Regions from separate parts of the Homo sapiens genome. Here region 1 is reported to be linked to region 2. The links are microRNA targets in miRTarBase. Many come from high-throughput screens and were not tested one by one. Region 2 holds a microRNA gene; the other region holds the end of a gene's coding sequence.

Region 1 (4,390 bases), not on the chromosome of region 2:
GAGGGCTGATTTTTAATAACTATTTTGAGCTTTCCTGCAGGCCTAGGGGAAATGGCTGGGGGATATGGGGGAGAGATGTGCCACTGTAGAGGCCTCAACTCAAGAAGCTTTATTTCCCATGAGAAAGGCAACTAAAATGTTTAAGAAATGAAGGCAGCAAAGATGAGAGACCTTGTGGATACAGCACAAGAAAAGGATTAATTAAATCCTTAATGCTACCACTGGAAGTTCTAAAATAAATACAAAGAAATACTAATGCCTTCCCCATCCCCACTTAATTTCTAAGATATGCTTTGGACTGAAAACAAAGGTTCAAATTTATGGATATATTCATAGATGATAGCATTTATGGAACGGATAGTTCACATTTATCTTTGGCCACTGAGAACATCAAGAATATAACAATTCATTCCCAGAAAATATTTTACAAACCTCCAGAGGCAGAAAATATTAAACATGCGATGCTTGCAATTTTTAAATATTACCATATTTCAGGATGGGAATACATTTTTGCAAGGGTAAGTTATAGGTATTTCCTTGTTTTAAAATTCAAGCAACAGACTTTATTGACATACTTTAATATAGTATTTTAGGGCCTCAAGCAAAGTCAGAGTCTCAGTTGCTCACACTCCCACTAATTCTTTACTGATTTCTACAACTCTAACAGGTACTGAATTCAGAAGGGTAATAGAGTTAAGGTAAAACAGGCAAAAATTGAGACATCCTTTAGTCTCTACAAGGAGAGGCAACTTGAGATATTTAGAGGCCAAGTAGGTAATGCAAGCTGTGCAAGCACAAGAAAAAACAATGGTGCAGGCCCAATGATAAATGTCAAGTGCTACCTGGCCTCTGTGTTGGGGAGACAACACTGAGGGACTTGGCAAACAGAATCTTCCTTATCTAAAGGTGAATCAGATGGTTTTTTTTTTTTTTTGCTTTGTTTTTTTGTTTGTTTGTTGGCTACATAGGTCTATAGGTCAAAGGCTCCCAGATCTTTTACTTTAAAAAAATAATAATAAAAAGGTAAGAATCTAGATTTTTAGCTGCTGTCTCTGTACTGAGATGTTGGTCTCTTAAAATTATAAGCATGAACCAAACAAAATAGATCTGTGGCCTGAAGACAGTCAACATGGGATATCTGATCTAAGCGAACATTTATAATATGTATGGATAAATTTGGAAAACTCTCCCTAATCACACCGTGTACTCAAAATCTTCTTTAAATCCCCTACCTTGCAAAATCAGAATTTCCCCAGAACTCCTTTCTCTAGCTTCCTTAAATGAAGACACACACACACACACACACACACACACACACACACACTCTCACACACATCATCATTTAGTCCTCACAATTTGTAAGGTACATCCAATTGTTCCTATTTTCAGTTTAGGACATGAGCCAGAGAGATTAATTTCCCAGTTACTGAGCTAATAAATAGTAGAACCCAAATTTTAACCAAGTAGTCTGGTTTGTCTGTGGCAACTGCATGTAAAAGAAACACAAATAATTTTACACCCCTAAAAGGGGTGTTAAAATGTTTTCTATCCTCAATAAATACAAGTAAGTATTTACAATTTTCATTGTCTCTCAGCTTACTGCCTATTTTTAAGACTGAAAAACAACCAAGTCAATTGCAGAGCCCAGGTTTTTCTCCCCAAGATGGGCCTTCAGATGGAATAGTGTTTCCCACCCCCACCTCTTTGCCCTACTCAGTCCCAGAGAAAAACAGAATCACAACCTTCTAGTTTGTGGACCTCAGATTTTTTTTTCCAAGAGTTTATCTTTCCTAGTAAAGATAAACTTTCCTGGTAAAGATAAAGATCTGGAGGTAAATACAACCAGCCAGTTTATTGTGCACTAGCATACCCCCACCCACACTAATTTACATCATCCATGCAATTAATTACCTATCCACACTCATCTGACCGTAGCTGCACGCTAATTGAGAAAGCAGTGGAAGAGGCAGTAGGATTAAGTCTAAGCACCAACATTTTACTTCCACCATCTCTCCCTCCTAACCCAGCTAGTGTCTGAGCAATTCTGATCAGCCTTGTCACAGTCCTATCTTTTACAGATCTCTCTCCCCAAAAGACAGGATGACCATAAAATAAATAAGGCTCTGAATTGTCCTGTTGCATTGGATATTCGTTCTTTACTGCTATAATGGAGCAGAAGCATTTGGAACATTTTTACTGATCATGATAAAACCTGCTGATACACTTATTTTGCTGAACCTAGCCTTCTGATGTAATCATTACTCTCCTAGAACTTCAGCATCTTAGTAAGGTAACCACGGCAACATACTCATTGATAGGGCAGGTTTTCCCAGACCAGCAAATTCTTATAGGCAAAAACTTAATTTACAAAGTTTAATTTCCAGAAATTAATTTGTGAATTAGATAGCTGAAGCTGGATCATTTTCCCTTAATACTGGTTAACACATACAATAGAAAGTAGTATACAGAGAAAGTATGTATGCAATACTATTAGCCAAACAAAATACACAGAACAAGAAATTTTATTATCTCCAATGCTGGTGCATGACAAATAACAAGCTTAATTAGAGGAGGAGACAGAGGGAAACTTCAGATACCAAGGTAATTTCTGGGCAGGTTTAAAACCTTTAAAAGTTGATAGAATAACTGTTCATAAAGTCTTTTTAGATATAGCGCTTTTTACTTGACAACTTTTATTAACAGTTCTTACAATATGAAGTTCAACTAAAGTCCTTCATCTGTCAAGTTAAAACAGCAAGCAAAACAAAATTTCTCTAGTATATAACAGCATAAGCAATGGTTTGTTTTCTTTGTACATTCACACACATTTAGTGTCTAGATTTGAAACTTTTTAATTAAGGATGTCTTAATTTTTGACTTTTAAAAATGGTTATGACAATGGATTTTCTTGATTTATAGATCACAGTGGCTTTATAAATGATCAAGATACATGTACAAACAAAATTTCAGATGCTCTTGGAAACACATCTTAAGATACAAAGCACACGTGATACATATTTGAGTTTACTCATCCATTTATCTTACACTGAAAATGTAGCCTTTGATAACTGTGGCTTGACTAGATCACAAAATAGAATTTTCCAAGTTTTCTTAAGCTTTCAGTCCAAATAACTCAAAAGATATGTGTCCTAGTTGGATACATTTTTTTCTCATTATATAATTAGTATCAGTGGGCTTTTGTATTGGCAGTTTGTCTTGGTCATGACTTATTCTTGCAAAACCATCTTTACAGCAAACAAATATGAAAGATATTTTCCCCAATGCAAGGAAAATAATCTGGATCAATAACAAAGTCAAAGCCATAGGTGTTTTAGGACGTTCTTGATAATTGATTTCAACGGTCTTAAAATCTTTTTTCTTTTTCTTTAATGATTCTCTTCCTTTTTCACAACTGTGCAGTCACTGTCCTATTGTGTTCTATTCTGAAAAACAAATTTTTTTGAAGGTCAAGTTTTTCAATGGCACAAAACTATTTGGAATGAACCCAAAAGATAGCGGAAAGTTGGGTCCCTCCTCAAGTAGTTTCCTCCTCTTTTAACAGCATCTAACTACTCTCTATCAATAATCTCATCACAGCCGAGTTCTTCGGTCAGACGATTGACAACCATCAGTGAAAAAAGCTCTTCGATAAAAGCTAACTGATCAAACGGGGTCTTCTCATAATGCATCTGAAACCCGCCATCCAGGGCTGGTTCTCTTGTTCTCAGAAACATCTTGTCGGCTTCTTCAAGAGCGGCTGATACTCTGTAGCCGGCACCACTGAGCTGCTCCTCTTCGGGATAGTCGTAGTCGTCCTCCCAGTCATCAAATTCCTCGCCCTCGTCCTCGCTCTCGAAGTCTGCGCCCGCCACCTGGCCTGGCTGCTCCCCAGCGTTGGGCCCGTTAGCAAGGCTCCGTTTCCCCTCTGGCGCCGCCATTGGCTGGGCCTCCTCCTCCTCCATTGGGCCTTCCTCCTCGAGCTGTTGGGCCCCGCTGCGGGAGGGACGCAGGGATAGCTCCCGGCTCCCGCTGCCTACCTCCATCTGCGGAAGGTCACCCTCGCCAGGCATCACATCCATCTGCAGGTCACTGCTCTCTTCATACAGCTCGGACAACTCAGCCATTTCCGACATTGTGCAAACCGCTCAACCTCTAGGAAAAAGCTTCCAGCAAGACAGATGCTGCGCGGCCGTGCGTTCGTGCGCGTGCGCAAAGGCTGCGCGCTTGCGTAACCCCGCGCGCAGGCGTGGTCCTCAGGTACCGCCTCCTACTTGGCGCGCCACTGTGGTTGGAGTAGCTCAGTGTTTTCTCCGGGGTGTTGGCGTCGCCTTTTGAGCTACGTTTCCATCGATTCGAACTTCGTATCTAGGGACCCTGCATGCAAGAGCGT
Region 2 (4,390 bases):
ACAGTCTCTGGGCTTCCTCGGGAAGCAGAGCTGCCTCCCACCCGCCTTTTGTAAGCAAAGAGCGCACACTGCAGTCACGCGTCCCTCCCTGACCCGGTGTCAACACAGGCTCCCATTGACCCTCTGACCACACCCACTGCCCAGAGCATCCTGTTTTCCCCAGAGGCCCCTGTAGCCGGCTCACCGCGTGATGCCACGGTTGGTGGCCATGATCAGGACAGGCGCCATGTCACTCTCCAGGGCCCGGTTGAGGAAGGAGAAGCTCTCGATGTCCAGCATGTGGACCTCGTCGATGAACAGCACCTTGGATTGGGGTGTGTGTGAGAGTCACCACCCGCGTCCCCACTTCCCCGGCCCACCTCCACCCCACCACCCGCCCCGGCCATGTCCTGGGTCCTCACTCCAGGGATGATCTCCGCCTTGCCCTCCTCGCGCCACTCAGCCACCTTGGCATTGATCTGCTCACGGACTTCTGACTTGATCTCCCCTGTGTCACCTATGGGAGGCACAGGTTGCATCAGGGAAGCCAGAGAGGAGGCGGGTTCCAGGGCCAGAGTGTGGCTAAGACAGAGAAGGATGATGCCAGGGATGGAGGAAGGGGAGCAAAGCAAGGAGGGATGAGGAGCCTGAAACATCCCCAAAGAGGAGGAACAGAGGCAGAGAACACAGGAGGGGAGAGGGCAGGGCCACACCCATCACAGCACCAGCAGGGGTGGGGACGGAGCGGACTTGCAGGTGGAGAACAGAGGCAGCCACGGGCCGGAGTTACAGGAAACAGCGTGGAGCAGGTGGGCCACACTCGGAGCTCAGGAACAGAGGGAGCCCGAGGGAGGCTGCTAGGCCTGGGGCAGGGCAGGGCAGGGCAGGGCAGGAGGGGCCTCACCTGAGAAGAGCGCCAGGAAGCCCTGGGTGCGAGAGTTGATGACGTCGATCTCGTGCAGGGACACGGTGTGCACCACCTCCTTGCGTTTCTGGAGCTCCCCATCTGGGCACTGCACGAACTTGGTCTATGGGGCGGGGGTGGGGGAAGAACGGCGGAGACAGGGCAGGGAAGGGCATGAAGGGGGCCCCTAAAGCCCTCTGTCTGGGGGAGACTGGAGCTCCAGGAAATGGAGCTGGGAGGCTAAATGGGGTCATCTGGAAACCCCAGGCCCAGGAGGTAGTCAGGACTAGGGACATTCCAGAGCGCTGAGGGTCACGGGGGCTCCCGGAGGACCTTAGAAGCCACAGGCCACATGTGGCCATGCGAAGCTATAGTGCCAGGCTGAGGGGCCCTGCTGTCCTAGGGTTACAGGGAAGACCCAGGAGTACCAGGACAAACAGTCAGGGTAACAGGAAGATCCAGACCCCATGGGTCAAGGGGGTGATGGAGGAGATGAAAACACCCCAGTGCTGGGGGCGAGGGGATCCCGGGAGTCCCGGCCGCACCTGGGAGCCCATAGCGTCGTAGTCGCGGGCGCGTGTGAAGGAGCGGCCCAGCTTGGAGATCTTGCCCGTCGCCTTGTCGATGGTGATCACGTCCCTACAGGGGGATGGGGGGTAGGGTAAGGAAAGGAATGGGCCCAAGCTCGCCCATCCCCCTGGCTGCCTGGCATGGCCCCTGACTGCTCACCCGGCCTGGACCTTGTCCTTGGTCAGGGACTCAATCATCTTGGTGCCCAGGTCGTAGATGGTCTCCATCTCTGTGGTCTTGAGGGTCAGTTTGCCCACCTTGGAGCCCTGAGAGTGGGGACAAGCCAGGGATGGGGCTCAGAGAGGGCCCTGATGTTGCCCCAGTGCCCCCAGTGTTGATAAGCTTCTGGCTCTGCTCTGGCCTCTGCTTCCACAGCTTCAAAATGGGCACAACACAAGGAAGCTCTCCAGGGAAGACATACGGTGCGCTCACCAGCCTGACGCGGTGATGGCTCCGCGGCTGAACATGTATGTCCCAACGGACCATACTGGACACTTGCAATGTGTACAGCTTTCTGTATGTCAATTAAAACTCAATAAAGTTCTTTTTTTTTTTGAGACGGAGTCTTGCTCTGTCGCCCACGCTGGAGTGTAGTAGCATGATCTCGGCTCACTGCAAGCTCTGCCTCCCGGGTTCACGCCATTCTCCTGCCTCAGCCTCCCGAGTAGCTGGGACTACAGGCGCCCGCCACCACGCATGGCTAATTTTTGTATTTTTAGTAGAGATGGGGTTTCACTGTGATAGCCAGGATGGTCTCGATCTCCTGACCTTGTGATCTGCCCACCTCGGCCTCCCAAAGTGCTGGGATTACAGGAGTGAGCTACTGCGCCTGGTGAATAAAGCTCTTTTTTTTTTTTTTTTTTTTTTTTTTTTTTTTTTTTGAGATAGAGTCTTGCTCTGTCGCCCAGGCTGGAGTGCAGTGGTGTGATCTCAGCTCACTCCAACCTCCATCTCCCGGGTTCAAGTAGTTCTCCTGCCTCAGCCTCCCAAGTAGCTGGGATTACAGATGTGTGCCACCATACCCAGCTAATTGTTTTGTGTTTTTATTATTTATTTATTTTTGAGATGGAGTTTCGCTCTTGTTGCCCAGGCTGGAGTGCAATGGTGTGATCTCGGCTTACTGCAACTTCTGCCTCCCAGATTCAAGCGATTCTCCTGCCTTAGCCTCCCAAGTAGCTGGGATTACAAGCACCCACCACCACGCCCAGCTAATTTTTTGTATTTTTAGTAGAGACAGGGTTTCACCATGTTGGTCAGGCTGGTCTTGAACTCCTGACTTCAGGTGATCCACCCGCCTCGGCCTCCCAAAGTGCTGGGATTATAGGCATGAACCACCGCGCCCAGCCATTTTGTATTTTTAGTATAGACAGGGTTTCACCATGTTAGTCAGGCTCGTTTCGAACTCCTGATCTCAAGTGATCGCCCACCTCAGCCTCCCAAAGTGCTGGGATTACAGGTGTGAGCCACTGCGCCTGGCCAAAACTCAATAAAGCTCTTAATAAAAATAGTAAACAGGCAGGGTGCAGTGGCTCACACCTGTAATCCCAGCACTTTGGGAGGCCGAGGCGGGCAGATCACAAGGTCAGGAGATCGAGACCACAGTGAAACCCCGTCTCTACTAAAAATACAAAAAATTAGCCGGGCGTGGTGGCAGGTGCCTGTAGTCCCAGCTACTCGGGAGGCTGAGGCAGGAGAATGGCATGAACCCGGGAGGCAGAGCTTGCCGTGAGCTGAGATTGTGCCACTGCACTCCAGCCTGGGCAACAGAGCAAGACTCCATCTCAAAAAAAAAATTATAATAAAATAAAATAAAAATAAAAAATAAAAATAGTAAACAAACAACATGCCTAAAAAATAAAGTCTATCAAAAACAACATAGGCCCGAGGTCTCGCAAAATTGCCAAATGTCACACTTTGACATTCCTATTTTATACCCAAATAAAAAGTGTTTTTGTTGATCACAAAATCAGAAAACACAGCTATGCAAAAAGGAGAAAACAGAAATTGTAAAAAAAAAAAAAAAAAAAAAAAAAGAGGCCAGGTATGGTGGCTCACGGCTGTAATCCCAGCACTTTGGGAGGCCAAGGTGGGCAGATCACGAGGTCAGGAGTTCAAGACCAGCCTGGCCAACATGGTGAAACCCCGTCTCTACTGAAAGTACAAAAATTAGCCGGGCGTGGTGGCATGCACACACCTGTAATCTCAGCTACTCGGAAGGCTGAGGCAGAAGAATCACTTGAACCTGGGAGGCAGAGGTTGCAGTGAGCCGAGATTGCACCACTGCATTCCAGTCTGGGGGACAGAGGGAGACTCTGTCTCGAAAACAAAAAAAAAAGAGAGAGCAAATCACCTGTATCATGTAAGATGGACAGGACATGCCTTTCGGCCACGGAACGAGTTTTGAAGTCTGTTGGGTTTTGAGGTCTGTTGGGAACTCACTAACAGATCTCTCTCATTATTTTACCGCCTCAGTTTCTATTGCCCATAATGTCCTTCATAAGGGGATAAGCCATTGTCAAGTTAACTGACCTCCTACTGTAGGCATGTACATGGCTCTAGTCTGCAGCTAGAACATTCCATGGGATTCTGACCTCAGTGCAGACCTGATATCTACTCTCTCCAACCCTGGCGCTGGAGGTGGCCTCAGCAGGGTACAGACTCACACAGACTCACCGTCCCTGTTGCTGGTCGATCAATCTGGATCTCCACCACCTCCCCTTCGATGATCTCCGTCTCCTCCCTAGCCAGAGAGCAGATCTGAGGAGACAGCCTGACACCTGGACCCTCGGGAATCACAACCTTCCATGAGCTCTGGGACAAAGGACGAGCCGCCCGGGGTGCGGGGTTGCTCCCAGGCTCTGGGGTCTGGCACCCGCCTCGGGTCCCCCGCTTACTTGATGCGAACGCCGATGGACCGCCGGAAGGCCTGCGTCAGCG

What was found. Region 2 holds the annotated microRNA hsa-miR-6798-3p (CUACCCCCCAUCCCCCUGUAG, at 1,523-1,543, opposite strand). A microRNA usually pairs through its seed, bases 2 to 8, with sites in the 3' UTR of a target mRNA and lowers its output. Matches are read on the target gene's strand: a 7mer-m8 pairs with bases 2 to 8, a 7mer-A1 pairs with bases 2 to 7 and ends in A, and an 8mer does both.
Region 1: miRTarBase lists EID1 as a target of hsa-miR-6798-3p. The part of its 3' UTR that is shown has no 7-base or 8-base seed match.

The regions. Positions count from the first base shown.
Region 1 is chr15:48,877,920-48,882,309 of GRCh38, reverse strand. EID1 (EP300 interacting inhibitor of differentiation 1) reads right to left here and starts at 4,176. Exons shown (of 1, transcript NM_014335.3): 1 at 2,137-4,176. The coding sequence starts at 4,133. The coding sequence ends at 3,570. All of the region lies in intron 4 of SHC4 (SHC adaptor protein 4), which reads left to right. RefSeq lists an enhancer at 3,922-4,221.
Region 2 is chr19:49,007,105-49,011,494 of GRCh38, reverse strand. It overlaps MIR6798 (microRNA 6798), which reads right to left and starts at 1,589; the gene lies at 1,523-1,589. RUVBL2 (RuvB like AAA ATPase 2) reads right to left here. Exons shown (of 15, transcript NM_006666.3): 5 at 4,348-4,390; 6 at 4,127-4,193; 7 at 1,613-1,719; 8 at 1,429-1,522; 9 at 884-1,007; 10 at 402-496; 11 at 185-303. RefSeq lists an enhancer at 1,554-2,055.